Linked DNA regions of Homo sapiens: all the other regions are linked to region 1. The links come from fine-mapping of genetic effects on gene expression. A gene starts in region 1. Each other region holds a variant in brackets. All regions are shown on one strand. Distances are between the middles of the regions.

Region 1 (5,110 bases):
CCCTAACTCCAAAGCTTATACTCTTCGAACTAGGAATAGTACCTCTCGATGAGCCCTGCTCCATCTCCCATCTAAGTAGGAGCTATTTAGATAACGACTTCAGAGGAAGCCTTTAAATAGACTATTTGAGTCATGGTAAAATGACTCTCTCTGAGGGACAATTTGATTGTAGGTTCACTGTCCTAGGAAAAAGGAACCCAAATTTCCCCTGGCAAAGTCTCAACAAACTGGTAAAGTAGAATCTTTCCCCGTCTCTTCCAGGGCTTAGGGCTTCAAATATTGCCCTCTGACAGCACCTTAAAAACTACATCTTCCCTATTTCCTCCTCCTTCTCTTCTCCAATCCTATCCAACAACTTTCTGCATTCTGTTCTTTCCTGATTATGCTCTCTTCTTTGTGACTGTGGAGAGGATTGAGATTGCGTAGATATATTAAACTAGCATAAGATGTTGTTTATCAAATTAAACATACTATGTAGGTTGACAATAACTTTAATCCAGTCAAAATTCATATTTCTCCTATAAGTCTTTAATAAATAATGATAATAAAGAAGACAAAAAATGTATTTATTGACCATATTTCACATGTCAGATGCTGTGCAATGCATTTTACTTCTTTTTTATCTTATTAAATCTCATAATATAACCATGACCTGGATACCATTATTGTCCCTATTATACAGGTAACCTTCAATCACATAAAAATTAGGAACATTTGAATTCAGAGCTTAAAACACAAACAACTTGTACTTTTCAAAATAACTTGCTGTTACCTTTAAGGTCTGTCATTAAAACATAGCATGTCCTGGGCTCAGTACCTAATCTTTCTTATCTGAAACTTAAATTCCTATTTATTAACCTTTTTAGCCCTATATTTTCTAATTCCATAGAAAACTAAAGGTTTTGGTTAGATCTTCATGTGGAATGACTGGTTTCATTCAATAGACTTAATTCAGCAGTCTGTGGGGAAGAGCAAGGTATGATAGAATGGTTCCTCAAGTGCTTCAGATGTGAAGTGGGTTTAAATATACTGTCCCTGTCTTCTTCAGAGTTTTGGTAAAGATAAAATAGGACACTCATTTAAAAGCAATCTTTGCAAATGACAAGCCACTATAGACATTAATAGAGTTTTCATTTCCAGTATTATCATTAATATCAGATCCTGGAAGAAGGTTGAGCCTTGACCTAGAGCAAAAAAACAGAAGAATTAGTAAAGGAATCCTGGAGAAAGCCCCTGCTGTGTATTTAAAGGAGAAAGGGAGATCATGTTGGGAAATTATAATATTAAAAGTAAACAAAAGCTAGGAAGTAAAATAAAATAAATTATATGGCCTAGATCCCCATAAGTAATGGTTTAACTTCTGCCTTCCTGTGTTCTGAGCCAGATTAGGGCACAGTAGAGAAAGAGGAGTCTCTGAAAATGTTTCCAATTTCGCTGGTCAGACAGCGGATCATCAGTGAATCAGATGAAAATTTGTGGATTTATGCACTAACTGATCAGCAGGAAATTAAACAAGAAAAGCGTTGGTAGCTCTGGTGAATCCCAAAAGAATTTGGCAGTTGCTAGCCATGCTCCTGAATATGTATAAACAGTACATCATATGACTAAGAGTTTGACTTAGGGGTTAGATTTTATGTGTTTGAACCCCAAATTAGTTATTTAATAGTTGGCACCCCAAAACAAGTTACTTAACCTCACTAAGATTCAGTTTTCCTGTTTATAAAATGTAGATAGTGATAGTATGTACTTTATAGGATTATTGTGAAAAATAAATGAAATATCAGATTTATTTAGGATAACACCTGGCATATGTTTGGTATTCAGTAATTAGTTGCTGCTGTTTTATTCTGCTCTCCCTTGCATCCCACTTTTCTAAGTTGTAAACTAAATAGTTGTACACAGATTGACAGATTAAGAAAGGCTTGTGATTGTGCTAGACCTATGCCTCTCTCTCACCAGATTCCAGGTGTATATGTGGAGGTGGGATAGGGAGTGGAGTAAGTGGGTAAATATTAAATTGCCCAGTTGGGCACCATCCTGAATATTATCTCTAAAGAAAGAAGCAAAACCAGGCACAGCTGATGGGTTAACCAGATATGATACAGAAAACATTTCCTTCTGCTTTTTGGTTTTAAGCCTATATTTGAAGCCTTAGATCTCTCCAGCACAGTAAGCACCAGGAGTCCATGAAGAAGATGGCTCCTGCCATGGAATCCCCTACTCTACTGTGTGTAGCCTTACTGTTCTTCGGTAAGTAGAGATTCAATTACCCCTCCCAGGGAGGCCCAAATGAATTTGGGGAGCAGCTGGGGTAGGAACCTTTACTGTGGGTGGTGACTTTTTCTAGGACATGTGCAAACTATTGGGCATTTCCCAGGGACTCTGTAGTGGAGCCAAGCTAGAAAGCAGAGGCAAGTGGGCTGAGCAACACCTAAGGAGGAAGCCAGACTGAAAGCTTGGTTCCTTGCATTTGCTCTGGCATCTTCCAGAGTGCAAATTTCCTACCAAGGAAATGAGGGTAGAGGAGAGAAAGAAGCTCTTTCTTCCCCTGATTCTGATTCCTGAAAAGACGGTTGGTCCTTAAAATTCCATGGATGTAGATCTTATCCCCACACCCAGATTCTAGTCCTCTGGAGATAAAGAAGACTGCTGGACACTAATGTATCCTCTCTGGACTTTTGCAGCTCCAGATGGCGTGTTAGCAGGTGAGTCCTCTGTTCTTGTTCCCTTGGTGTTTCAACATGTCTGGGCATTGCTTTCCTCTCACTATTTTCTTCGTCCCATCACTTCTGCTTTCTAATGAGCATGAATCTGTTCCTTGGCCAGACTACTTTCCCTCTCCACCTTGCCTTGTCTTTCTTTTTTTCCCTGATTCATTGCATTCTCTCAAGTCATTCTCTCCTCTGTTTTAGTCAATAACCATGTCTGTTGCACATATACATGTCTCATTCTCTCTCCTAGACACTTTGGCATGATCTCGCTCAATAATTACATTATTATTATTATTGCCATTTTATAATTGAGGATGCTGAAACTCAGTGATTTTCTGGTGGTTACATGGCTAAGGAACTGGATTTCAACGTAAGTTCCTTGGATCTAAGTCCAGTTCTCTTCTGACTATATCACCCTTTTGTTATCACCATGTATCTACTTCTTTGGTCTCTGTTCAAATTTGCACTACATCCCCTTGTTCCAGGAAGCCATTCAAGACTGACTTTCTTAGTGCCTCTCACTACTTTCTGGAACTGACATATGTTTTTCACTCTGTATATACTTACAATTAAATAGTCATAAATATTCAGAGCTTGGAGAAACCTTATATTTCATCCAGTCCAGTAAATTTATCCATCCATAATTCACTCATTCATTCACATAATAAATATTTAATGTAACAATGGTTGAACATGGCAGACAGTGTTTCTACCTCAAAAGAGATTGCAGTCCTCATTTACAGATACTGAATTGAAATTAACAGAAGTAGAGTGAGTCAGCTCAAATCACATAGTGAATTGGTTTCTTTGTTTTTAAATCTCCTGCATATGTGTCCTGTCTTTCTCCCTGTGTTGGGCGTTCCCTGGGGCACCAATACTAATTTCTCCTTCCCCTAGAAATCAAAACAGGGTCTTATCACCAACAGAATAAGGACAGGTTGACCACTGATTGTCAGAATATTGCTTCGTTTGTACTTTTAAGCCTAGACAGTTTTCAATGACTTTTTTTCTCTCTACATGTCTTTTCATATTTTTATCTTCTTGAAGTCCCTCAGAAACCTAAGGTCTCCTTGAACCCTCCATGGAATAGAATATTTAAAGGAGAGAATGTGACTCTTACATGTAATGGGAACAATTTCTTTGAAGTCAGTTCCACCAAATGGTTCCACAATGGCAGCCTTTCAGAAGAGACAAATTCAAGTTTGAATATTGTGAATGCCAAATTTGAAGACAGTGGAGAATACAAATGTCAGCACCAACAAGTTAATGAGAGTGAACCTGTGTACCTGGAAGTCTTCAGTGGTAAGTTCCAGGGATATGGAAATACAGATCTCTCATGTGAGGGATGGCTCATCTGAAGATGGGAAAAAACAGGTTATTCCAAGGGTTAGGACACCAGAGTGGGATTCAAGGCCTCTCATTTTTAAGACCCCTGCATTGGCTGGGCACAGTGGCTCACGCCTGTAATCCCAGCACTTTGGGAGGCTGAGGCAGGTGGATCACGAGGTCAGGAGATCGAGACCATCCGGCTAACATGGTGAAACCCCATCTCTGCTAAAAAATATATATATATAAAATTAGCCGGGCGTAGTGGTGGGCACCTGTAGTCCCAGGTACTCGGGAGGCTGAGGCAGGAGAATGGTGTGAACCCAGGAGGTGGAGGTTGCAGTGAGCTGAGATCACGCCACTGCCCTCCAGCCTGGGCTACAGAGCAAGACTCCGTCTCAAAAAATAAATAAATAAATAAAAAAGACCCCTGCATCTCTTTTCTTCTACCCCCTTCCCTTTTGATTACTTGTATGCCTTCTTTCAATATTCTAGTCATCTCTCAATATTATTCCTCCACCCTATTTTCCTCTATCTTTTCTGCCTAGATTCAGGTATATATTATGTGGTCAAACAGCATGACATATATGTGAACATTTCAAAGAGCTGTGTATCTGGAATAGGATCAAAAGGTTTGACTTAAAGTTTTGCTCTGCATAATCCATATGGCAGGACCTGAATATTAGGTTGTACTCTTCGTTATGAAACATATCTGGGTACATTTCCTTATGTCCTCTGTTGTTACTTAAGAACACATATTTCATGCTTGTTTCATTTTTATCACTCCTACTGCCAACAAATAGCATAGCATGCTTAGGCACATGTGGCTTAATTAGCAAATGTTGAATAAACAAATTAATGATTTTGAATAGTGACCAATAGGTCTCTTTTATACTCTATATTTTTCTCTTGAGTGAAAAAAAATGTTTCAACCTCCATATGTAAATTCCAAACACAAACTAAAGCAATGTAGAATAGCTTCTTTATTCCCTGGAGTAGGTTCTAGAGAAGTCCTAAAGGATTGGTCCTAAATTAATTATGCTTATTATGCTAGCGATATTTCCTTTCAAAAT
Region 2 (5,110 bases), 100 kb after region 1:
AAGAGTAAGTTCTTACTTATCAACAATAACATTGAATGCGAATGGACTAAACTCTCCAGTGAAAATACATTGACTGACTGAACGGATGAAAAAACAAGATCCATTGATCTTTGCCTACAAAAAACACTTCACCTATAGACACACATAGAATGAAAATAAAGGGATGAAAAAAGATATTCCATCCCAATGGAAAACTAAAAAGAGCAGGAGTCACTATAGTTATATAAGACAAAATAAATTTCAAGATGAAAACTATAAGAAAAGACAAAGAGTGTCACTATATAATGATAAAGTGGTCACTTCAGCAAGGGGATATAACAATTTTCAATATAAATATTTTATAAAATTTAAATATATATTTATTACATAAAATTTAAATATAAAGTACCCAATATATAAAAGATATATAAAGAAAATACTATTAGAGCTAAAGAAAAACATAGGCCCCAATACAATAAGAGCTGGAGACTTCAGTACCCCACTTGCAGCATTGGACAGATCTTCCAGACAGAAAATCCATAAAGAAACCTCAGACTTATTCTGCACTATAGACCAAATAGACCTAATAGATATTTACAGAACATTTCATACAAGAGCTGCAGAATACACATCCTTTTCCTCAGCACATGGATCATTCTGAAGGATAGACTATATATTAGGTGACAAAACAAGTCTTAAAACATTCAAAAAATTTAAATAATATCAAGCATCTTCTCTGGCCAAAAGGGGATGAAACTAGAAATGAATAATCAGAAATTTTGGAAAATATACAAATACATAAAAGTTAAACAATATGTTCCTGAATGACCAGTGGGTCAATGAAATATTGAAAACTTCTTGAAACAAAGAATAATGGAACCACAACATACCAAAACCTATGGGATATAGCAAAAGCAGTACTAAGAGGGAATTTTTCAGCTATAAGTGCCTGCACCAAAAAAAAAAGAGAAAAAACTTCAAAAAACAATCTAACAATGCATCTTATAGAACTAGAATAGCAAGAGCAAACCAAACCCCAAAGTAGTAGAAGATAAATAATAAAGATTAGAGCAGAAATAAATAAGATTAAAATTTGCAAAACACAAAAGATCAATGTAATAAAAGTTGGGTTTTTGAAAAGTTAAACAAAATTGACAAACCGTTAGCCAGACTAACAAAGAAAAAAATAGAGAAGCTCTAAATAAATAAAATCAGAAATGAAGAAGGTGGCATTGCAACTGATACTGCAGAAATTCAAAGGATGATTAGTGGCTACTATGAGCAAGTATATGCCAATAAATTGGAAAACCTAGAAGAAATGAACAAATACTTAGGTAGATACAACCTACCAAGATTGAACCAAGAAGAAATAAAAAACCTGAGCAGATAAATAACAAGTAATGAGATTGAAGCCATAACAAAAAGTTTCCAGGAAAGAAAACCCAGGACCTGATGGCTTCACTGCTGAATTCTACCAAACATTTAAAAAACTAATACCAATCATACTCAAATTATTCCAAAACATAGAAGAGGAAGGAATACGTCAAACTCATTCTACAAGGCCAGCATTATCCTGATACCAAAACCAGACAAAGACACATCAAAAAAAGAAAACTACAAGCCAATATTTTTTATGAATATTGATGCATAAATCCTCAACAAAATACTAGCAAACAGAATCCAACAATACATTGGAAAGATCATTTATCATGACCAAGTGGGATTTAATCCTGGGATGCAGGAATGGTTCAACATTTGCAAATCAATCAATGTGATACATTACATCAAAAGAATATAGGACAAAACCATATGATCATTTTAACTGATGCTTAAAAAAGCATTTGATAAAATCCAACATCCCTTCATGATAAAACCCCTAAAAATCAGGGGATAGAAGGACCATACCAAAATGAAATACAAGCCATATATGACAGACCTACAGCTAGTACCATACTGAATGATACTAGCTGAATGGGGAAAAACTGAAAGCCTTTCCTGTAAGATCTGCAACACAACAAGAATGCCCACTTTCATCACTGTTATTCAGTATAGTACTAGAAGTCCTAGCTAGAGCAATCAGACAAGAGAAAGAAATAAAGGGCATCCAAATTGGAAAGGAAAAAGCCAAAGTATCCCTCTTTGCAGATGCTATGATCTTATATTTGGGGAAACCTAAAGACTTCACAAGACAACTATTAGAACTAATAAACAAATTCAGTAAACTTGCAGGATAAAAAATGAACACACAAAAATCAGTAGCATTTCTATATGCCAACAGTCAAAGATGTGAAAAACAAATTTTTTA[A/T]AAAAAATCCCATTTACAATAGCCACACATAAAATGAATTATCTAGGAATGAACTTAACCAAAGAAGTGAAAGATCTCTATAATGAAAACTATAAAACACTCATGAAAGTAATTGAAGAGGACACCAAAAAAAGGAAAAAGATTCCATGTTTATGGGTGGAAGAATCAATATTGTTAAACTATTTATAGTACCCAAAGCTGTCTACAGATTCAATGCAATCCCTATAAAAATACCAATGATATTCTCCACAGAAATAGAAAAACCAATCATAAAATTTATATGGAATCACAAAAGACTCAGAATAGCCAAAGCTAGCCTAAGCAAAAAGAACAAAACTGGAAGAATCACATTACCTGACTTCAAATTATACCACAGAGCTACAGTAACCAAAACAGCATACTAGTGTCATAAAAACAAACACATAGACGAATTGAACAGAATAGAGAACCCACAAACAAATCCACACACCTACAATGAACTCATTTTAAACAAAGGTACCTAGAACACAAACTAGGGGAAAAGACTCTCTTCAATAAATGGTGCTGGGAAAACTGGGTATACATATGCACAAGGATTAAACTAGACCCCTATCTCTCACCATGCACAAAAATCAAATCAAAATGGATTAAAGACTTAAATCTAGGGCCTCAAACCATGAAACTGCTACAAGAAAACATTGGGGAAAATCTCTAGGACATTATTAACCTGGGCAAAAATTTCTTGAGCAATAACCCACAAACACAGGCAACCAAATCAAAAGTGGACAAATGGGATCACATCAAGTTAAAAAGCTTCTTCATAGTAAAGTATACATTCGACAAAGTGAAGAGACAACCCACAGAATGGAAGACAATATTCTCAAACGATCCACGTGACAAGGGATTAATAAACCAAATGTGTAAGGAGCACAAACAACTCTATATGAAAACAATCTAATAATCTGATCAAAAATAGGCAAAAGATTTGAATAGACATTTCTCAAAAGAAGACATACAAATAGCATGCAGGCATATGAAAATGTGCTCAACGTCATTGATCATCAGAGAAATGCAAATCAAAACTACAGTGAGATATCATCTCACCCCAGTTAAATGGTTTATATCCAAAAGACAAGACAATAGCAAATGCTGGCATGGATGTGGAGAAAAGGGAACACTTGCACACAGCTGGTGTGAATGTAAATTAGCACAACCATTATGGAGAACTTTTTGGAGGTTCCTCAAAAAACTAATAATTAATCTACCATATGATCCAGCAATCCAACTGCTGGATATATACACAAAAGAAAGGAAATCAGTATACTGAAGAGATTGTACTCCTATGTTTGTGGCAGCACTGTTTGCAATAGCTAAGATTTGGAAGCAACCTAAGTGTCCATCGATAGATGAATGGATAAAGAAAATGTGGTACATATACACAATGTAGTAATGTTCAGCCATAAAAAAAGAATGCAATCCAGTCGTTTGCAACAACATGAATGGAACTGGAGATCATTACATTAAATGAAATAAGCCAGGCACAGGAAGACAAACATTGCATGTTCTCACTTACTTGTGGGATCTAAAAATCAAAACAATTGAACTCATGGGCATAGAGAGCAACCAGAGGCTGAAAAGTATAGCTGGCGGCTTGAGGGGGAGGTGGGGATTGTAAATGGGTATCAAAAAATATAGAAAAAATAAATAAGGCCTACTATTTGATAGCACAACAGGATGACTATAGTCAAAAATAACTGTACCTTTTGAAATAACTTGAACAGTCTCTTGAAAAGGCCTGAGTTGGAGAAACTGGAGGTGTTTCAGCCAGCAATAGAATTTAATGTCTTCCACCTTTTAGACAATCCAGGAATGAATATAGACTCCGGGAAAGGAACTAGGCACCTATTGTTTCCAGTATCCTTTTTCACACCCATCATCAGAATTGCAGCATAGGATTCTGCAGGTTGTGCAGTGCGCGACAGTGCCACATTTGTAAATGATACAGGAGTATCATTTACAGCTCAAACATCATAGGTTTGTGATAATTTATTACGAGAGGGCAGTAAAATTATTATGGCAGTTTTCAACAGAAATGTCTAGAGAAGATGCTTTTTTCCCCTAAAATGGGTAGACACGCTTCATAGAACAGTGACAGCCTTGCCTGTACTATCCAATGAAGACCATGATTTTTCTCAAGAGGTGTCGGCTTCATGTTACTCCATTCATTACAAAGAGCAAGTGACAATGATAAGAGAACTAGATCCAAATCCTATCACTACAACTGTCTAGTTTCGTGTGCCTGGGCAGATAAATTCTATCTATATGTGCTTTAGTATTTTCAGGTCTAAGATAGGGATGATAACATAATTGTTTCCCAGCCTACTCTATAGGGTTCATTAAGGATCAGGTGAAATCCTATATGTGAAACTTCCTTATAAACTATAAAGCGATGTACAAACATATAGAACTTTGTTTTCAGTGTGATAAACGGTAATTCCCCGTTTTTATACCCCATGATAATGGTGGTGCAAGACATGAGGTAGCACTATCGAGGAGAAACTGCATATACTCATGGCTCACCATGGGCTCCATAGGGTGAGGGTGATGCCTACACCAGTGAAAGAGGAACCAGTAAACTTATACCAAAGTTTGTGAACAAATAAAGACATGAGGAAAAAAGGTGGATCTAAGGGGGAAATTGTATAAGGAACAACTAAATTAACACTTTCCATTTTCACCTCTGAAGGTTCCCTAGCCTCAAAATAGAATAACACATCTGAAGCTTTTTACAAGGCATCCAACATGAATCTTCCATTTTTGTGTTATTCGGCAGGACCTGTGATGACA
Region 3 (5,110 bases), 140 kb after region 1:
AATCACCACAAGTTTTGCAGGACATTTCACATCGTGAATGGCCAAGAGCTTCTGTGCTCATTATTGTAACAGTTAAAAGCTCTGCCAAGCATTTCTGATTTCACCATAGAGGCACCATACCACTCCGTGGCTGGACTACTACATAGTTTTTGCTCAGAAGCCTCACAGAAGACAAATGTCTTTAGACATATATTTTAGTATCAAATGATTTTCTTTATTGGAAAATATTCTCTATTGCAGCTTTACTTTCTTTTTAGCATTCTTAGTGTAAATGATTAACAGCTGGTCATCAACTTCTTTTAAATAGATTTTTATGAACTTGAAGAAAGTCTCCGTGCGTACTAACCTTCATCATTGATGTGATTTACTTTATGCAAAACTTCTCTTTCTGAATATGCATAAGCAAATCAGAATATAATTTAAATACCCTAGAGAAGCTTACTGTTTAAAGAGATAAAAATGTGAAATATTACATAAATTGAACTGATCCCCTTCCTTCAACAAAATGATGTATCTTTGGTGTAGCTGTTTTTTTATATTCAGGGTTTGCTTTTGCTTTAGGTGAGGGACACTTAAATTTGCTGTATCTTTCCTGATACAATTGTTTATCTCTGCAGAGTGGGTGTAGGCTTACTCACAAAGTTGTATTGGCTATAAATTTGCCTTCTAGTTTAGGGAAGGTAAAGATGTAGCATAGTTTATAACATACGTGAATCAGTGCTCTGAACTGTCAGCAGACTTCCATCACTCAGACAGAAGTGGGGAGAGGCTGGTGGTTGGCTAAGATTTTCCTTTTTCTTCTTGAAGACAAGATGAACCTTTCTACTTTGCTTCTAATTCTTAAAGGATGCGCAAGGAGGATGATTCATAGTCTTGAAAGAAAAGACATCACTAGTCCATCCCTAAACAAATTATTTTCAAGCACCCAATCCATGCATAATTTGGAGCTAGTGAAATATGAAAAGATGTAAAAGGTATTATAAAGTTGCTAAGTGTTTGTATGAGGTGAGGCAGCAATAATGGGGTAAAAATAATCCAAATAAACATGAGAACCTCTGAGTGTAATACGGTTTTATGAAGGCCTGAAAATGTGCACTCATCTCTGAAGAGTAGGAAAGAAATAAGAGGAGAAAAGAGAAGCCATTCCAGATGTCAGGGAGGAAGAGTAGATATGAAGTAGGAGCATGTATGGTTATACAGTGAAAAAGTGAGACTATATGATTCTATGATGCATGGAAAATTATAACAGATGGTCACAGAGTAAAAATATTTTAAGTAAAGATAAGTAAACCCAGGGATTAACTTAATCCACTAGGAAATACATCACCAGATTTGTAACTGAGAACTATTGAACTTCAATCAATTTCAGAAATGTGCTTCTACTGCTTTACTGGGACTATGTGACTTTTATGCTTTTATGTTTCAGATTTGGGAACCAATCCATGAAAAGAGAGAACTTTACTCTCATCACTGACTTTGTTTTCCAAGGTTTCTCTAGCTTCCATGAGCAGCAGATCACCCTTTTTGGCGTGTTCCTTGCACTATACATCTTAACCTTAGCAGGCAATATCATCATTGTGACCATCATCCGAATGGATCTTCATCTTCACACACCCATGTACTTCTTCCTGAGCATGCTGTCCACTTCAGAGACTGTATATACATTGGTCATTCTCCCAAGAATGCTCTCCAGCCTCGTAGGTATGAGCCAGCCCATATCATTGGCAGGGTGTGCCACACAGATGTTCTTTTTTGTAACCTTTGGCATCACTAACTGCTTCCTGCTCACAGCAATGGGATATGACCGCTATGTGGCCATCTGCAACCCCCTGAGATACATGGTTATTATGAACAAGAGGCTGCGTATCCAACTTGTCCTGGGGGCCTGCAGCATTGGGCTGATTGTAGCAATAACGCAAGTGACATCTGTATTCAGGTTACCCTTCTGTGCTAGAAAGGTGCCCCACTTCTTCTGTGACATCCGCCCTGTGATGAAGCTCTCCTGCATTGACACCACTGTCAATGAAATCCTGACTTTGATTATCAGTGTGCTGGTGCTTGTTGTACCTATGGGTCTGGTTTTCATTTCTTATGTTCTCATTATCTCTACAATCCTCAAGATTGCTTCAGTTGAGGGCCGGAAGAAGGCTTTTGCCACCTGTGCATCCCACCTCACTGTGGTCATTGTCCACTACAGCTGTGCCTCCATTGCCTACCTCAAGCCCAAGTCAGAGAACACCAGAGAACATGACCAGCTGATCTCGGTGACCTACACTGTCATCACTCCCCTACTGAACCCTGTGGTATACACCCTGAGAAATAAAGAGGTCAAAGATGCTCTGTGCAGGGCTGTTGGTGGGAAGTTTTCCTGACCATGTAGGAAGAGTTCTCCTGAGGCTGTCAACATCCACACTAGGCAGGAATATGAGGTGTAAACTCACAAACACTTGGCTCCTAGAGACCTGCCCCTTAAATAAGAGGCAAAAGAGGAATAGCAGTTTCATACAACTGGGAGTCTGAAGCTTTAAATAAAGTTACTGGATGGAGTGTTATCCCTATTTTTGGGGATAAATAGACAAACAAGGATAAGATATGCCTAAATAAAAGGCCAGAAAGTAGTATGGGCTGAGAATTTTTTACTGACCTTTTGGTTTCTTTGTGAATCTCCACCTAATGAAGGCAATAGAAAGCCCCTTGAGAAAATAGAATCCAAGACACACTTAAAATCTTTTTCCTATAATCCCTTTCTTCCTATACTAGAGCACCAGGGCTTCTGAAACTGGATTCCCTATTGGAGTATGTTTATGACATGTCAAGTAATAAGTTACTGTGTGGGGAGGGAAAGTGGCCTCAGGATTAGATAGCCCAGGAGAAATAGATGTTCTCTCCTGGATGTGTTAATTTATCCCAGATTCTAGCAAAACTGCTTATTAAAGATGGTGAGCATACACAGTTTAATTAGAGATGCTGGCAATTCTACAGTCATCATGACAGTGTTTTGAGGGCATAATCTGAGATACTCCTGGATCCTTTCAAATTTGGCTAAATCAGAAAACACATAATGGGCAAGAGCTATGAACTAGCCTCTGTGCTAGGTCCTGGAGAAATAAAGATTAAAAAAGCTTTCTTGTCTGG[C/T]TTCAGGAAGCTACAAGCCTAGTGGTAAAAACAAGCATTTGACAGTATGGTTTCAGTTCTTTATGGTAAGTGGTGTTTACACACAATTAAAGAAGAACTCAGAAAAAGAAAGAAAAGGAAAGGGGAAGAGAGAGAGACTGTTGGAGATGTTAGGGAAGTCTTAAGAGGAGGGGACCTGTGATGCAAACTGTTTTTAAAACACAAGAGATTGTCTGAATGATAAGAAAGAATTCCAAAGAGAAGAAACAATGTAGCTACAGGTATGAAAGCAAAAGGACTGATCAGGTAACGAAAAATGATTCAGTTGTGCTGACTCCAGGACATGGAAGAGGTGGGGATTGAAGGAGATAAAACCAGAAGGGTAGGTTGGGGTCATATTCTGAAGGCCTCATATGCCAAATTAAGGAATTTCAGCTTTAACTTTTTTTTAAAAAAAACAGAGTCTTGCTCTGTTGCCCAGGCCGGAGTGCAGTGGCACAATCTCAGCTCTCTGCAACCTCCGCCTCCTGGGTTCAAGTGATTCTCCTGTCTCAGCCTCCTGAGTAGCTGGGATTACAGGCATGCGTCACCACATCCGGCTAATTTTTGTATTTTTAGTAGAGACAGGGTTTCTCCATGTTGCCCAGGCTGATCTCAAACTCCTGACCTCAGGTGATCCACCAACCTTGGCCTCCCAAAGTGCTGGGATTACAGGCGTGAACCACTGCACCCGGACAGTTTTTACTTTTAAATATGGGAACTACCCAGGACTTAGGAGAACTAGGATTCAGTTTGTGAAGCATCTATATGAATTCTTAACATCTTTATCATACTTAGCTCCCCTGAGATATCTAAAAAGCCATATAGGGGGAGGGAGACTTTGGACTGCAAGCCAAAAAGCTCATGAGTAAAAAGAAAATGTGACTAAGGTATTGGGGAGAATACACAGAAATAATTATGTACTTAAGATGAAGCTGAATCAGACTGTCATAGAGAACATGGAGTGGAGGCTGTCCCAGGACTGTCATGTAGATTTGGGGTTTGAGATACAGATGAGCACCAAGGGAAGAATAAGGATTTGCTGTCAAATCAGTGACTAGGCTGGGCCTCAGACCTGGTGGCAGTATGGTCTCAGGGCACACTTTCTACTAGGCTGAAAGTGTGGACTCTTTAATCAGAAAAGCCTTTGAACGAACAAACAAACAAAACAGCCGAGATCCAAAGGACACATGTATCTGCATTCCAGACCATAATAGAACTACTAGGGCATTTTTCAGGATTAACAAGGTCAATGGCAAAAATAAAACCATATCTAAAGTTCTCTAAGAACATCATAAGGTGGCTAAAAGTAACTAAGACAAGTTGTTAACTGACAAGAAAAAAAACTGAAAAAAGCAAAACATTGCTGGTAAAGATTTTGACAGGCATTCAGTAAACATTCATGAAATGTTTACCAGTTATTCAATAAACATTCATAAAGTATTTACTATGTGCCAGATACTATGCTAGACATAAAAAAATCTTGAAATAAGCCCTGTACTATCCCTTAAATAGTTTCCAGTCTTGAAAGGGAGATGGGTTTATGCAGAACTCACCGTAATTCAATGTGATGGAGAAATGAACAAAGTATGCTTAATATTTAATGACAAAAATGTAAGCCTCGGGATATTTTTTCCTGATCTATATAAAGCTAAATCTCATCAAGCTAAGAATGGACTTTGCACGTTGAAGTTCAGTGAAATAAATGCCTGTTACCTGGACAGTAAGGTTGCCTTGATCTGTGTGTAGTGCTATCTCCTGGGGCCAAAGGCTATGTAGCTCCTGCTGGGCATCACTCAGAACATTTCATCACCATGGAATTTTAGAACATTTATCACTCAGGTTTTTCAGAAATCTTGTTTGAACAGAATAGCTTAACAGTCAGACATTATGGAATCAAATGTTTTCAACAATCCCTTTTTTTGGAATTATTTTAGTCATCATTCATGCTCTGTAT
Region 4 (5,110 bases), 170 kb after region 1:
TTGCTATAAAGAATTGCCTGAAACTGGGTAATTTATAAAGGAAAGAGGCTTAGTTGACTGACTCACAGTTCAGCATGTCTCGGGAGGCCTCAAGAAACTTAGCATTGTGGTGGAAGGCAAAGGGGAAGCAAGGCACCTTCTTCACAGGGTGTCAGGAAGGAGAATGAACACAGGTGGAACTATCAAACACTTATAAAACCATCACATCTCGTGAAAACTGACTCACTATCATGAGAACAGCTTGGAGGAAGCCGCCTCCATGATTCAGTTGCCTCCCCCTTGTCTCTTCCTTGACATTTGGGGATTATGGTGATTATGGGGATTACAATTCAAGATGAAATTTTGGGTGGGGACACACCCAAACCATATCAAGACCACTTTAATTACAGTGGCTATTTTAATAACCTCATCGTCCCCAGTAATCTTGTGCTGCATATATACAAGGGTTGTGGGTTGGGGCATATTTGTCACGAAAAAAAAAAAAAAATTGTACATATGTTTCCCAGGATAAAACTTCCAGTATATTCTCAGAACCAATGTTAAATTAATTTTTGTTTTAATGTAAGGAGTTTTTTGTATATCACCCTTAGTTGATTCTGCCCAAAACTAAGATCTTCTCCAAAATGATTTTTTCTTCATTATTATTTATATAACTAGCTAGGACTTTAAAATGGCAGTTTGCCTTACTAAAAAAGTAAAGAAAAGAAAAACTAAAGGGAAAACTAAAGGTTCTGCTTTTTTGAGCACCCAACTATATAAGTCAATAAATGTTTAAAAACAAGATCTCTCTATATCTTCCACTACCAAGTATTGTGTTTTGCACAAACCAGTTCACCATTAAATATCTATGGAAGGAGACAAATATCCATGGAAAGGAGAAAAAGAAAGAAAGGGGAGAAGGAAGAAAAAAAATGTATGAGCTTTAGACAAAGAAGAAAAAGAAAGAACTAACATAACCGACATCTAACCATTTGTTGGACATTTGCCTTATAGGCTTATTTTATCCTAACAAAGAGAATAGGAATTTTATCTATACTTAGCTGATGAAGGAAATGAAGTTCAAAGTTCATGTATAGTTAAGGAGCCATGAAGAGAGAAATTCAAACTGCTACACTTCCAGCTCTCCCTGTCTTCACTATGGTATTTTCCTAGGATTACTGTAACAGCTTCCTGACTCTCCTTGCTTCCACTTTAGCTTCCCTAAAAATAGTAACTGCTCAGCAACCAGAGCCTCTTTAAAATATAAATCAGATTGTGTCACTGTTCCCTGCGTGAATCATTCTGGTGGCTTCCTTTTGCATTTAGAATAAAATGTAAATTTCTTCATAAGTCTAAAAAGCCCTACCTGACCTGGCCTGTACCTCTGTCTCCAACACCCTATCACTCTCACTCTCACTAGCCTCCAGCCATACTACTTTCTAAGAATACAAGAATACAAAGCCCACACCCAGCCTTGGCCTTTCAACTTCCCAGATTCCTCCTGCCTGAAATGCTTTCCTCTGCAGGCCAGATCTGACTCCCGCACCCCTGCCTGTTTTTCTAAATAAAGACTTACACGGGAGAGATAGCTCAATTCCAGCACTTTGGGAGGCTGAGGCAGGCAGATCACGAGGTCAGGAGTTCGAGACCAGCCTGACTAACATGGTGAAACCCCATCTCTACTAAAAATACAAAAATTAGCCTGGTGTGAGGGCGCACACCTGTAATCCGAGCTACTTGGGAGGCTGAGGCAGGAGAATCACTTGAACCTGGAATGCGGAGGTTGCAGTGAGCCAAGATTGTGCCACTGCACTCCAGCCTGGGCAACAGAGTGAGACTCTGTCTCAAAAAAAAAAAAAAAAAAAAAAAAAAAAAAGCAAGACTTATTAGTACACACCCACACCCATTCCTTTATGTATTACCTATAGCTGCCCTAAATTATGACCTATCGGCCTCTATCTGTTCACTTATATGATGTTTCCTTCTCAGTTGCTGCTTCCAAAGAGAGGCCTTCTCTGACTACCCAGTCTAAAATACCTCCTTGCCACAAATCTTATCATCCTATTGTCCTTATAAGATTTATTTTACTCATTTATTGATGTATTAATTATCTAACTCCTCTCTCTAGAATCTGTGTTCTATGAGAGTAGTAGCCTTACAAGTCTTATTTATAACATTTGCCAGTTACTAACATAGAGTCATCTCTTGATAAATATTTTTAGTAAATGAATATA[C/T]GATGGAACACTTTGTTTTTATTACTCCAAAATTCAAGATTTTTTATTACATAATGACTCTCTCTAACAACAAAAGAATGTCTGGCCATAGGAAAGAACAATGTATAATTAAGCAATTTTTGTTCCGTTCTGAAGATCTTTTTGATATTCAGCAGAGATAGGCATCATACCATCCTCTAGAAAACCGTAAAGTCTACGAAACACAGAGTACACATTTGTAGAATACATATTTGTAGCGTGCTCTCCAACTTAATGGGCAGTGCCATATGAGATCAATTTATAACAACCAGGCAAAAGCATTTGGAAGGTTTCCGCATGGGGAGGAGTTCGTTCTGGGTTAGTCCTGGAAAACACTTCAAAGTAAGCAGTGTATCTTTTGAGCTCAATAACTTGACTTTTGTCTTCATAGCATTCCCTGTTTCCACTGATGCAATCACTACCCTCCGGCTGATTAATCATGATATACCCAAACAGTATCAAAGCTGCTATGGTCTGAATGTTGTGGTCCCAAAAATTCGTATGTCAGAAGCTAATACCCAATATGATACGAAGGGGCCTTCAAGAAGTGATTAAGTCATGAGTGCTGCACCCTCATAAATGTAATTTGTACCCTTATAAAGGAGGCTTAAGCAAGCTTCCTTGCCCCTTCTGCCAACTGAGGACACAGCAAGTGCCATCTATGTGAAACAGACCCTCATCAGAACCAAATCTGCTAGCACTTTGATCTTAGACTTCTCAGCCTCCAGAGCTATAAGCAATAAATTTCTGCTGTTTTATAAATTACCCAGTCTAAGGTATTTTGTTACAACAGCCCAAAAGGACTAAGAAATAAGCCCATAAGACAGCTACCCAAGCTTGTGACAGCCTTTTCCGATAAAGTTTACTCATCTTGAGGCTGATTCCTTAAATACCTTTATCTGCTACTAAAAGTTGATGGTAATACACTGATCATGCAAATAAAAAGCTGGTAACAAGTCAGCTGATATGTTGCTCCCTACTTGAAAGAGCTGTTCTTGGAAAGCCATTTGCCTTCATTTAGGGTCATTAAGAAAAAAGATATTTTAAACCTTTTTGCAAGCCAAGTTACTATCATTACCTCCTGGATGTCCCTAAATGTATAATATTCTATCAACCAAGTCTTGGGGTAAGAATGGCTCTAATTAGTTGGGACATCTGTAGTAATTGTAAAGTGAGTATATAGGATTAGATAATCTCTAAGTCCCTTCAATTCCAAAACCCTATGCTTTTATAATGAACTTTATGGACTTCAGAGCAGTGGGGAAGTATATGGAGTATGGACCCTGAATGAAACATCACATTGATGGGAAATAGAATGTCGTTTTTTTTGGGGGGAAATACCTTAATCTTGTTAAGCCGTAGTTTCCTAGGTACAATATAGACATAATAATGCCTGCCTCTTCTGTAGTTATGATAATTACAATGCGCTAATTGCATATAAAGCAACTTAGAGCTGTAGCTAGCTGATAAATGAAACCTAGTTTTATTATTATTGGGATTCTAGTGTTCTCAACTCTCAATATGGTAGTATGATACTGAATATTACATTGGTTATGTTCTGATAAAATCATCATCTTAGGAAATGAGACATACTAGAGATAAATTTCAAAGAACTGGAAGAATGTGGAAGAGTTGATAAAGTGAGCCAACAAGGATGAGCTCTTGTCTTGGAATTTGGAGGGTTAATTAACACAGCTACACAAATGAACTATGACCTATTTTTGACCTTAAATTAAGAAACTTGTTATCATAGGGAGATTATTAAGGACACATGGGGGTAGGAAGGGACATAAATGAGAAAACTATGTGTTGGCCTTGTCTTCAGACTGATGAACTGCTCTTGTAGTGTAAAACAAGATGGAACCTGCCTTGTTATTAGAACGGAATGTGCAAGCTGCAGGTAGACTATATCAACCCAAATGTGATGAGGAATGATTGTCTTACACTAAGGAGGTTTGAGACTTGGTAAAGCTCCTTATTATATTTACCAAATTTCTTAGCATTGAAATCTTTACTTTCTAAACTTATCCAATTTATTCTGTGTAATGAAATGAAGAAAATCATATTTCCCAAAATTCCTCTTAGGGAGACTTTGTATTTATTCAAAAGAAATTACTTTTTTTGGAGTATGAGACCCTAAGGAAATGCCGAAGGAACACAATACAGCAATTAAATTGTTCCGCTTACTAAAGGGATGAGGAATTTTAACAGGAGTGAATCTTAGAGGCGGAGGAAGAGGCCAGTGAGGCAGGAAGATAGTGGAGAGAGGGAGGAAATAGTAGGAGGGAGCCAGAAGACCTATTCATTGAGTAACAGAGAAGGGATTTAGGAAAACATTAGAAATGACTAATTGGAGGGGGTGTTAGATTTGCTTTAAGGGTGCAATGTAAAGTCCTTCATCTATTTTCTTTTACAGCTCTTCAAGAATGCCATTATCATTGCTTACCCAGGCTTTTGGAGATTATTTTGCAGACTTGAAGAGGTGCCAAGTTCTGTGTTCAGATTAGTACAGGGAGAAAACAGAATGTTCCAGAGTTTCATAACTTAGGGGACAGGGTGGGAGAGCCAATATCAGAGTCAGATGTAGTCATATTTCTTTGTGGTTTCTCATAATGTTTTTAATGAATTTTTTAAAAATACCTCATGTAAACTGTAATATGGATAATTAAAACCAGAGAAGCAGGAGAACTCTAAATGCGACAGAAAGACCCTCACAAGAGGGAGACGCAAACTTAGAAGGTAGAGTTCAGGGACTAGTTCTGGCATTAATGTCCAAAAGAAATATAATTAAATTACATATGTAATTTTAATGTTTCTAGTGGTCAAAGTTTTTAAATGCAGAAATAAAGAAATAAAATTAATTTGAATAATATATTTTA
Region 5 (5,110 bases), 150 kb after region 1:
AAAAGAATGTAATAAAAAAATTGAAATAATAATGACTAAGAACCTTCCAAAATTAATGACAGGCATGACACCACAGATCCAGAAATCTTAGAGAACACCAAGCAAGGTAAACCAAATGCTCCTATGAAAAAATAAGCAAACAAACAAACAAAAACTCCACTTAAGCAAATGAGTCATATTATATTCCAGGCTCAGAAAATCAAGGACAGAGAAAATCTTTAAATAAGCCAGAGGGAAATAATTATCTTAACTACAGAGGAGTGAGAATAAGAATTAATGCAGACTCCTTATCAGAAACCCCTGCAAACAAGAAGGTGGAGTAAAATGTTTAAAGTGTTAAAATAAAAAACACAGCCACCTAGAATGGAGAGCAAAACTATTCTTCAAAAATAAAAGAGAAACAAAGACTTTATCAGACAAGCAAAACTAAATGAACTTAATGCCAAAAGACTTGCCATTCAAGAAATGCTAAAATAACATATTTATGAAGAAAAAATTATATAGGTCAGAAACTTGAATCAACATAAAAAAGGAAGAAAGTAGATTATTCTTAGCTGAACTAAAAATACTAGTTTTTTTTAAAACTTTTATTTTAGGTTAAGGGGTGTGTGTGCTTCTTTAAAGCAATAATAGTAGCAATGTACTTGGTTAGTGGAATAAATAAATAAATAAAATAAACAAAAAGTAGCTGGGAAGAATTGGGAATAATCACTATTATAAGATATCTACACTACATGTGAAGGCAGAGTGTTTTTTGAAAGTGAACTTAGATTAGCTTAAAATGTATATTGTATACTCCAGGATAACTATTATAATTTTTAAAGAATGAAAACTGGCTCCCTCTCCCTCTCCCTCTACCCACAGTCTCCCTCTGCCCACTGTCTCCCTCTCCCTCTCTTTCCATGGTCTCCCTCTGATGCCGAGCCGAAGCTGGACTGTACTTCTGCCATCTCCGCTCACTGCAACCTCCCTGCCTGATTCTCCTGCCTCAGCCTGCCGAGTGCCTGCGATTGCAGGTGCGCGCCGCCACGCCTGACTGGTTTTCGTATTTTTTTTGGTGGAGATGGGGTTTTGCTGTGTTGGCTGGGCTGGTCTCCAGCTCCTAACCGTGAGTGATCTGCCAGCCTCGGCCTCCCGAGGTGCCGGGATTGCAGACTGCAGACGGAGTCTCCTTCACTCAGTGCTCAATGTTGCCCAGGCTGGAGTGCAGTGGCGTGATCTCGGCTCGCTACAACCTCCACCTCCCAGCCGCCTGCCTTGGCCTCCCAAAGTGCTGAGATTGCAGCCTCTGCCCGGCCGCCACCCCGTCTGGGAAGTGAGGAGCGTCTCTGCCTGGCCACCCATCGTCTGGGATGTGAGGAGCCCCTCTGCCCGGTGCCCAGTCTGGGAAGTGAAGAGTGCCTCTTCCCGGCTGCCATCCCATCTAGGAAGTGAGGAGCATCTCTGCCTGGCCACCCATTGTCTGAGATGTGGGGAGCGCCTCTGCCCCGCCGCCCTGTCTGGGATGTGAGGAGTGCCTCTGCCCAGCCACGACCCCGTCTGGGAGGTGAGGAGCGTCTCTGCCCAGCCGCCCCGTCTGAGAAGTGAGGAGCCCCTCTGCCCGGCAGCCACCCCGTCTGGGAAGTGAGGAGCGTCTCCGCCCAGCAGCCGCCCCGTCCGGGAGGTGGGGGGCAGCCCCCGCCCAGCCACTGCCCTGTCCGGGAGGTGGGGGGCGCCTCTGCCCAGCCGCCCCTTGTGGGAAGTGAGGAGCCCCTCTGCCCGGCTGCCACCCCATCTGGGAGGTGTACCCAACAGCTCATTGAGAACGAGCCATGATGACGATGGTGGTTTTGTCTAATAGAAAAGGGGGAAATGTGGGGAAAAGATAGAGAAGTCAGATTGTTGCTGTGTCTGTGTAGAAAGAAGTAGACATAGGAGACTCCATTTTGTTCTGTACTAAGAAGAATTCTTCTGCCTTGGGATGCTGTTGATCTATGACCTTACCCCCAACCCGGTGCTCTCTGAAACATGTGCTGTGTCCACTCAGGGTTAAATGGATTTAGGG[C/A]GGTGCAAGATGTGCTTTGTTAAACAGATGCTTGAAGGCAGCATGCTCCTTAAGAGTCATCACCACTCCCTAATCTCAAGTACCCAGGGACACAAACACTGGAAAAAAAAAAAAAAGAACAAAAACTGGTATGCTAAGAGACAATATGGAGTTATAAGCCACAGAATACAAAAAAGAAGAAAGCAAACAAAGAACAAATGCAATAAATAGAAAACAGTTGCTTCAATTAAAAGACAGACTGTCAAGGTTATAAAAAACAAGACTCATTTAAAGGTTGTTTAAATATGAATGGTCCAAATACATTTAATTAAAAGACTGTTGAGGCACACAGGATTCATTTATAGGTTGTTTATAGTTTCTATCTGAATAAAAACCCATGTACACAGCTTAAAAATAAAGAAATGGAGAAAGATATACCATGCTAACACTAATCCAAAGAAAGTTGCAGCAATTATATTAATTTCAGACAAAGCTAAATTCTGAACTGGGAAGATTATGAAGTATAAAAAAGGGTATAACATAACGATAAAAATATTGATTCTACAAGATAAAAAATATATAAATGTGTATGTTTGGAGCAAAAAGACATCAAAATACATGAGTCAAAAACTTTTAGAACTGAAAAGGTAAAGCACCAAATCTATTATAGGTGAATACTTAAATGCCCTTTCATCAGTAATTGTTTAAGAACACAGAATATCAGAAAGAATATAGAGGAACTAAACAGAACTATCAACCACTTTCTCTAATTGATATTTATAGAATACTCCACCCAATGACAATGGAATATACATTCTTCTCAAGCTCACATGAAACATTCACCAAGATAGACATTCTGGAGCATAAACCACACATTTACCAATTTTTAAAAATAGAAATTATACAACGTATGTTATCAGATCACAGTGAAGTTAAAACCAGAAATCAAGAACAGAGGATAGCTGGAAAATCCCAGCATATGTGAAAATTTCTATATAACACATTGGTCAAAGAAGAAGTCTGAAGAGAAATTTTTAAAATATATTTTGAGCTGAAAGAAAATGGAAATACAACTTATCATTTTTGACATGCAGACATAGTAATATTTGAAGGCAAATTTAAATCATTAAATGCATACAATAGAAAAGAAGAAATATTTGGCATCAATAACATAAGCCTTGTCATAAGAAACTAGGGAAAGAAAAACAAAGCAAGCAGAAGAAAAATAAATATCAGCAGAAATCAATAAAATTGAAAGTAGAAAAACATTTGATATTGACTATCAGCAAAGTTTAAAGCTGATTCTTTGGAAAGATCAGTAAAATTTATAAACCTCTTGAAAGAGAAAGAAGAAAAATAAAAGAACACACAAATTAGCAATACCCTAAATGAAAAAGGGGCCATAACTACTGACCCACTGATATTAAGAAGATTATAAGGAAATAGGAAAAACTCTATGCCCAGAAATTTGATAACAACTTAAATGAAATAGGTCAATTCCTTGAAAGATACAATGTACCACAACTCACACAAGGAGAAATAAAGAAACTGAATAGCCTTATATGTATTAAAAAAATAATTTAATAATAATTAGCCTTTCAAAAAATTAAAGTAACAGGCCCAGATGGTTTTACTGGTGAATTCTACCAAATAATTAAGTAATAAATAATGCCAATTTTCCACAGTCTCTTCTAGAAAGTGGAGGCAGAGAAAATGTTTTTTGAGTAATTCCATGAAGTCACTATTACCTTCATACCAAAATCAAACAGACATATTTTTTAAAAACATAGACAATATATCTAATGAATGTTAAGGTAAAAATTTTGACAAAATATGAGTAAATCAAATACAACAATATATAAGATAAAGTATACACCATGACTAAATGTCGTTTATTTCATGTTTTCAAGGCTAGTTCAAGATTCAAAAGCCAATCAATGTAATCCACCAAATCAACATGATAAAGAAGAAAAATCATATGTTTATGTCAGTTGGTGCAGGAAAATCATCTGACAAAAGCCAATGCTGACTTCTGATTTAGAAAAAGTAAAATTCTCAGCAAATTAGGAATAAAGAAGAACTTTATCAACTTGATAAAGAATATTTTTTAAACCCACAACTAACGTTATACTTAAGGTGAGAAACTGAATTCTTTCCCCCTAAGATCAAGAGCAAGACAAGGATGTTTCCTCTCAGCACTTCTATTCAACATCTTACCAGAAGTCCTGGTTTCTGCAATAAGACAAGAAAAAGAAATAAAAGGTATATAGATTGGAAGAAAGAATTAGTGTTGTCTTTATTAACAATTGCCATTATTGAATAAACCCCAAAGAACCTACAAACAAAGCTTCCAGGACTAATGAGTATGGTAATGTAATAGAATACAAGGTCACTATACAAAAGTCAATTGTTTTTCTATGCACCAGTAATGAAAAAATGAAATTAGAAGTAAATACCACAAATAATAAAATAAACATAAATCTAAACAAGAGTGTAGAATTTTGATATAGAAAACTACATAACACTGAATAGAAAAATCAAAGATTATCTAAATAAATTGAGATATTTCATGTTCTTGGATTGAAATAGTCAATATTGTTAAGATAGCATCTTTTGGAGGAGGAGCCAAGATGGCTGAATAGGAACAGCTCTGGTCTACAGCTCCCAGCGTGAGCGACGCAGAAGACGGGTGATTTCTGCATTTCCATCTGAGGTACTGGGTTCATCTCACTAGGGAGTGCCAGACAGTGGGCGTGGGTCAGTGAGTGCGCGCACCGTGCGCGAGCCGAAGCAGGGCGAGGCATTGCCTCACTTGGGAAGCGCAAGGGGTCAGGGAGCTCCCTTTCCGAGTCAAAGAAAGGGGTGACGGACGCACCTGGAAAATCGGGTCACTCCCACCCGAATATTGTGCTTTTCGGACCGGCTTAAAAAACTGCACACCACGAGATTATATCCCGCACCTGGCTCGGAGGGTCCTACGCCCATGGAGTCTCGCTGATTGCTAGCACAGCAGTCTGAGATCAAACTGCAAGGCGGCAGCGAGGCTGGGGGAGGGGCGCCCACCATTGTCCAGGCTTGCTTAGGTAA

Evidence for each region.
Region 2: its variant is fine-mapped to the expression of FCER1A in whole blood (INTERVAL, PIP 0.99).
Region 3: its variant is fine-mapped to the expression of FCER1A in whole blood (TOPMed, PIP 0.92).
Region 4: its variant is fine-mapped to the expression of FCER1A in whole blood (TOPMed, PIP above 0.99).
Region 5: its variant is fine-mapped to the expression of FCER1A in whole blood (TOPMed, PIP above 0.99). The same link has a PIP of 0.9 or more in blood mononuclear cells.

Annotation. Positions count from the first base shown.
Region 1 is chr1:159,300,170-159,305,279 of GRCh38, forward strand. FCER1A (Fc epsilon receptor Ia) reads left to right here and starts at 2,167. Exons shown (of 5, transcript NM_001387280.1): 1 at 2,167-2,250; 2 at 2,685-2,705; 3 at 3,759-4,013. The coding sequence starts at 2,196.
Region 2 is chr1:159,400,209-159,405,318 of GRCh38, forward strand. It overlaps a transcript of OR10J1 not described here. Among named protein-coding and RNA genes, the nearest start is that of OR10J1, 37 kb to the right of the region's middle. The variant A/T (reference allele first, on the strand shown) is at 2,285.
Region 3 is chr1:159,438,350-159,443,459 of GRCh38, forward strand. It overlaps OR10J1 (olfactory receptor family 10 subfamily J member 1), which reads left to right and starts at 1,373. Exons shown (of 1, transcript NM_012351.3): 1 at 1,373-2,618. The coding sequence starts at 1,443. The coding sequence ends at 2,372. The variant C/T (reference allele first, on the strand shown) is at 3,136.
Region 4 is chr1:159,468,921-159,474,030 of GRCh38, forward strand. The region is part of intron 2 of LINC02819 (long intergenic non-protein coding RNA 2819); the gene reads left to right. Among named protein-coding and RNA genes, the nearest start is that of LINC02819, 5.4 kb to the left of the region's middle. The variant C/T (reference allele first, on the strand shown) is at 2,214.
Region 5 is chr1:159,448,316-159,453,425 of GRCh38, forward strand. No RefSeq gene overlaps it. Among named protein-coding and RNA genes, the nearest start is that of OR10J1, 11 kb to the left of the region's middle. The variant C/A (reference allele first, on the strand shown) is at 2,045.